Regions from separate parts of the Homo sapiens genome. Here region 1 is linked to region 2. Evidence: fine-mapped expression QTL. A gene starts in region 2. The other region holds a variant in brackets. All regions are shown on one strand. Distances are between the middles of the regions. Region 1 overlaps SYCE2 (synaptonemal complex central element protein 2). Region 2 holds the start of FARSA (phenylalanyl-tRNA synthetase subunit alpha).

What was found. PIP is the estimated chance that this variant, and not a neighbour inherited with it, causes the effect. A credible set is the group of variants that fine-mapping cannot tell apart.
Region 1: its variant is the best candidate, but not a certain one, in a credible set for the expression of FARSA in lung (TOPMed, PIP 0.63).

Annotation. Positions count from the first base shown.
Region 1 is chr19:12,908,684-12,911,183 of GRCh38, forward strand. The region is part of intron 2 of SYCE2 (synaptonemal complex central element protein 2); the gene reads right to left. Among named protein-coding and RNA genes, the nearest start is that of SYCE2, 9.4 kb to the right of the region's middle. RefSeq lists a cis regulatory region at 1-308 and a silencer at 2,094-2,262. The variant G/A (reference allele first, on the strand shown) is at 1,247.
Region 2 is chr19:12,932,108-12,935,127 of GRCh38, forward strand. It overlaps FARSA (phenylalanyl-tRNA synthetase subunit alpha), which reads right to left and starts at 1,604. Exons shown (of 13, transcript NM_004461.3): 1 at 1,443-1,604. The coding sequence starts at 1,589. FARSA-AS1 (FARSA antisense RNA 1) reads left to right here. Exons shown (of 3, transcript NR_149078.1): 2 at 863-930; 3 at 1,042-1,189. RefSeq lists enhancers at 1,207-1,276, 1,287-1,786, 1,508-1,802 and a silencer at 2,839-2,944.

The sequences.
Region 1 (2,500 bases), 24 kb before region 2:
CCCGGTTCTCAAATGAAACAGCTCCTACCACAGTCACCATGACCTTGTGGTTAGACCGATAGACATCTCAGAGTGACATGCTGACCTCTTGGCAGCAGCCAGCACTGCTGACCACCCTTCCCTGCTACTCCCGACATGTGGTATCCCAGAGGTCTGTGCTTGGGCCTCTGCTGTCTTCTTGCCAGACACCGTCAATCACACACTTGTTCTGCAGTGAGGCCTCCATGCCTCCTCCCTGCTGGCCCCTGCAGCTAATATCCCAGCCACCATTCCACAATGCACAGGCTATTATTCTCCAAAGGCATTCATTCCCGTAGCATGGGATCCCTGAACAGTCCCCTTTCCCACCTACGTCCTGTCTCCTCCAGAAAGTGTTCCTTGGCTGGATTAGGTGCACACAGCACCTACGGTTTCACTGTTTACACCTTGGCCTCCCACTGTAGTCTGCTGAAGGGCCAGGGCCATCCTTCATCTTTGTATCTTCAGTACTTACCCCTCATGAGAGAAGCAATAAATGTGCTGCTAATAAGTAAATGACTTGCGAGTACTATCCATTACCATCCACACTTTGGATTCTATCATCTAAATTCTATCATCCCAGCCCATGCCTCTCTCCTGAGGACCCAAGAATATATGAAACCTCCCAGCCTCCCCACATGGCTGTCTCAAAGGCATCTGAAACTCCACATTTGCACAACCAAAAGCGTCATCTCCCAGGCAACCCGATTTCATCTTCCATTCCCTTAGTTAATGACATAAAAAGCCACCTGGTTCCCAAGCTCAAAACTTAGCAGCAAGCCTAGAGTCCAGCTTCTCTCTGTCCCTCTGCATCCTGTCTCAAAATCCCCTCATTTCTACCTTCTTTGTTTTTTTATTTTTATTTTTAATTAATTTTTTTTTCAGATGGAGTTTCACTCTTATTGCCCAGGCTGGAGTGCAATGGCGCGATCTCGGCTCACTGCAACCTCCGCCTCCCGGGTTCAAGCGATTCTCTTGCCTCAGCCTCCCGAATAGCTGGGATTACAGGCATGTACCACCACACTTGGCGAATTTTGTATTTTTAGTAGAGACGGAGTTTCTCCATGTTGGTCAGGCTGGTCTCAAACTCCCGACCTCAGGTGATCCGCCCTCCTCGGCCTCTCAAAGTGCTGGGATTACAGGCATGAACCACTGTGCCCAGCCTTTTTATTTATTTGTTTTTGAGACAGAGTCTTGCTTTGTTGCCCAAGCTAGAGTGCAGTGGAGC[G/A]ATCTCAGGTCACTGCAACCTCCAACTCCCGGTTTCAAGCGATTCTCTTGCCTCGGCCTCCCAAGTAGCTGGGATTACAGGCACCTGCCACCACACCCAGCTAATTTTTGTATTTTTAGTAGAGACGGGGTTTCAACATCTTGGCCAGGCTGGTCTCCAACTCCTGACCTCGTGATCTACCTGCCTCAGCCTCCCAAAGTGCTGGGATTACAGGCGTGAGCCACCATGCCCGGCCCTACCTTCTTAATGTCTCTAAATCTACCATCATTAGCAGCTCTATAACTTTCACTTCTCAACTAGGCCATAGGGACCTTTATTTTATTTACTTATTTATTTTTGTAAAAAATTTTGTAATAAATTTTATGTTAAAAAATTTTTTTTTCTTTTGTAAGAAATTTTCTTTTGTAAAAAATTTTGTTATTATTATTTTGTTTTTGAGACAGACTCTCACTCGGTCGCTCAGGCTGGAGTGACAGGCTGGAGTGTCGCTCAGGCTGGAGTGGTGCAATCTCAGCTCACTGCCACCTCCACCTCCTGGGCTCGAGTCATTCTCGTGCCCCAGCCTCCTGAGTAGCTGGGACTACAGGCACACACCACCACGCCCGGCTAATTTTTGTATTTTTAGTAGAGACAGGGTCTCACCATGTTGGCCAGGCTGGTCTCAAACTCCTGACCTCAAGTGATCCGCCTGCTTCGGCCTCCCAAAGTGCTGGGATTATAGGCATGAGCCACCACGCCTGACCTTTTATATATATATATTTTTTTTGAGATGGAGTCTCGCTCTGTCCCCCAGGCTGGAGTGCAGTGGCACAATCTCGGCTCACTGCAAGCTCTGCCTCCCGGGTTCATGCCATTCTCCTGCCTCAGCCTCCCGAGTAGCTGGGACTACAGGCGCCCGCCACCACACCTGGCTAATTTTTTGTATTTTTAGTAGAGGCGGGGTTTCACCATGTTAGCCAGGATGGTCTCAATCTGCTGACCTCATGATCCGCCCGTCTCGGCCTCCCAAAGTGCTGGGATTACAGGCGTGAGCCACCGCACCCGGCCTGACCTTTTTTTTTCTTTTGAAGGCAGGGTTTGCTACATTGCCAAGCTGGAGTACATCAGTACAATTACTGCAACTTTGAACTCCCCCAGGCTCAAGTGATCCTCTCGTCTCTGCCTCCTGAATATCTAGGACTACAGGCGGGTACCACTACTCCTGGCTAAATTTTGTTTAATTTTTCTGTATAGATGGAGGTCTTGCTATGTTAC
Region 2 (3,020 bases):
GCAACCTCCACCTCCCGATTCAAACAATTCTCTGCCTCAGCCTCCCAAGTAGCTGGGATTACGGGTGCCCACCAACACGCCTGGCTAATTTTTTTTTGTATTTTTAGTAGAGACAGGGTTTCATCATCTTGGCCAGGCTGGTCTTGAACTCCTGACCTCGTGATCCACCCGCCTTGGTCTCCCAAAGTGCTGGGATTACAGGTGTGACCACTGCACCCGGCATAAATTCTAATTACTATAATTATTTTTATGGCTATTACTGTCATTAGATTGAACCTCACCTCCTTATATTATTTAACCCTCTGTGACGTATACAAATGTCAGATCATATTGGTCAAGGCACTGTCACCCCACACAACACAGCTGCCATCTCTCCTCTGCATTGAGGACTATGGGCTCTGCAGCCTGAGTGCCTAATTTCAAATCTGGGCTCATCGGCCTCTTCTATTCACACTGATTATGTTACTGACCATCAGTTGTCACATCTGCAAAATGGGAATAACATGGCCATCAGCCAGGATTATGGAATGGATTGGACAAACAAGCTGAGACCAAAGTGGGGCACAGAACATGAGCTCTACGGATAAACAGCCCAGATCCTGGCCCCATGGATCTAGCCTTCTGGGTGGCCCACGGGCCCCTCAGCATCCTACGCCTGTGACTCTGTCACTGTCCACTTGCCCAAGTCAGAAGGCTGGACTTCATCTGTGCGCCCCCTGCCTTGTCCTGAATCCCACGCCTTCCCCACCTCCCCCAAGCTTCCTTCCCATAGCCAGACATCATGCCCTCCAGCTTGGGGAAGTGCCAGCTTCTTCTTTCATCCCTTCACCTCCAGTCCTGTCCATGCCAATTCTTCCCAAAGGTGATGTGGATAGCACACTCATCTGACCGGCTCTAGCTCCTGCTATCGCTTCCCAGTTCCCTCATGAGGTAAAGACCTAAGAGGCTTTGCAATTACAGCTATGCTGGTCTCCCTTGCCGCCTGCCATCCCCCAAGATCCCGGCCACTGATCTCTAAAGTGCTATCACTTTCCTCAACAGAGAACAGACTCAGCCGTCACCTGCACCAGGCCGCTCTCCCTGACCCCCAAGGCTGGGTCAGCTGTCACAGCTGGGTCCCCTGTTTTCCCCCATCACTCTGGTTCTTGAAGCACCTTCCTATTACGTCGCAACCTGCGTGAGGGCAGCAACCGCGACTTCCTCGTCCATCATCGTACCCTCTACCCACGCTGACCGTGCCTCAATAAACGTTTATTGCATGAGGAACATCCGTGCGTCTGGGCCCTCACTCGTCCCACTTCCCGCCCGCACATCCCGGAGTGGACACATATACAGCTACCCCAAACTAGGCCTGAGGGAATTTGGCTTGGACGTAGAGCGCCCGTGGCAAGGGGACTGTAGGTGCAAGGGCAAGGCGGTCCGGCATCACGGGCCCGGCTCACCTCGCCCAGCGCCTGAAGGCTCTTCACGGCGCCCACCACCGCCTGGTGCTCCATGCCCAGCTCAGCCGCCAACTCGGCGCTGTCCAGGCCGCCATCAGACGCCTCCAGCCGCCGGAGCAGCAGTTCCGCCACCTGACCATCCGCCATGACTCCTTCCAGTGTGCTCAGCGTGTCCGGGCCCGGGTGGGCGGGGGGAGCTGAGCCACCGGAACCGGAACCGGAGTGTGTACCGCCATCTTGAATGTGTCTAACTGTAGAACAGGGCTCAATGTGTCGTCATCTTGAGTGTGGCGACGGAGCCGCAAAAGGTGCATGGGACTCAGTTCCCACCTCCACCCTGGCTCCATCAATGGCGTCTGGTTGACCAGAGGGGTAAAATTGATTATCTCAAGGTCAGAAGCACCGCCCTGTTTTGAGTTTTATCTAGCCTCACTTCGAGCGGGCTGTGTGACCTTGGACTTCCCCGTCTCTGGGTTACAGAACCCTCTGCCCTTCTGGTATTCTCTCTTGCCCTAGGAGAGGCGGTGGGTGGTGGGCTCCAGAGATGGTCATTTTGGCGATGTCAGCTACTTTTAAAATTTCAAAGGAAGGCTGGGTAGGTACCGTCCCTTTTTATAGAGGGAAAAGGAATTCACCTAGTAAGTCAAGGTGGCACCTAACCTGTGTGGACTACCTCGTATGTGGTAGTACTTAGCCCAGAACTGAGTACTTCACGTGTAGTATTTCATTTATCCCCAAAACTTTATGATGTAGATACTGATATAACCGCATTACACATGTGAGAAAACTGAGGCTCAGAGGGTGGTATGACTTGCCCAAGGTTCTACAGAGAGTTGGTGGAAATGAAGTCATAAATTATAAACCTTCCAGATCCTCCCACCCCTGTGCGCTGAGAGTAACGTCAGTGCAAATACTGCATGGCCTAGATTAGCACTGTCCTATAGAAACACAGTGCAAAACATCTTTCTTTTTTGAGACAGGGTCTTGCTCTGTCACCCATGCTGGAGTGCAGTGGTGCAATTATGGCTTACTGCAGCCTTGACTTCCCAGGCTCTAAGGATCCTCCAACCTTAGGCTCCTGAGTAGCTGGAACTGCAGGTGCGCGCCACCACACCCAGCTTTTTTTTTTTTTTTAAGTATGGGTTTTGGCCATGTTGCCCAGGCTGGTCTCAAACTCCTAGGCTCAGGTTATCCTCCTGCATCGGTCTCCCAAAATGCTGGCATTAGAGGCATGACCCACCTCGCCCAGCCAGCCAGACCCTGACTCTTACAAAAAAAAAGATGACTAATAAAATATTTTGCACTCGGCCGGGCACAGTGGCTCACCTCTGTAATCCCAGCACTTTGGGAGGCCGAGGCGGGTGGATCACCTGAGGTCGGGAGTTTGAGACCAGCCTGACCAACATGGAGAAACCCCGTCTCTACTAAAAATACAAAATTAGCAGGGCGTGGTGGCGCATGCCTGTAATCTCAGCTACTTGGGAGGCTGAGGCAGGAGAGTCGCTTGAACCTGGGAGGCAGAGGTTGTGGTGAGCCGAGATCGTGTCATTGCACTCCAGCCTGGGTGACAAGGCGAAA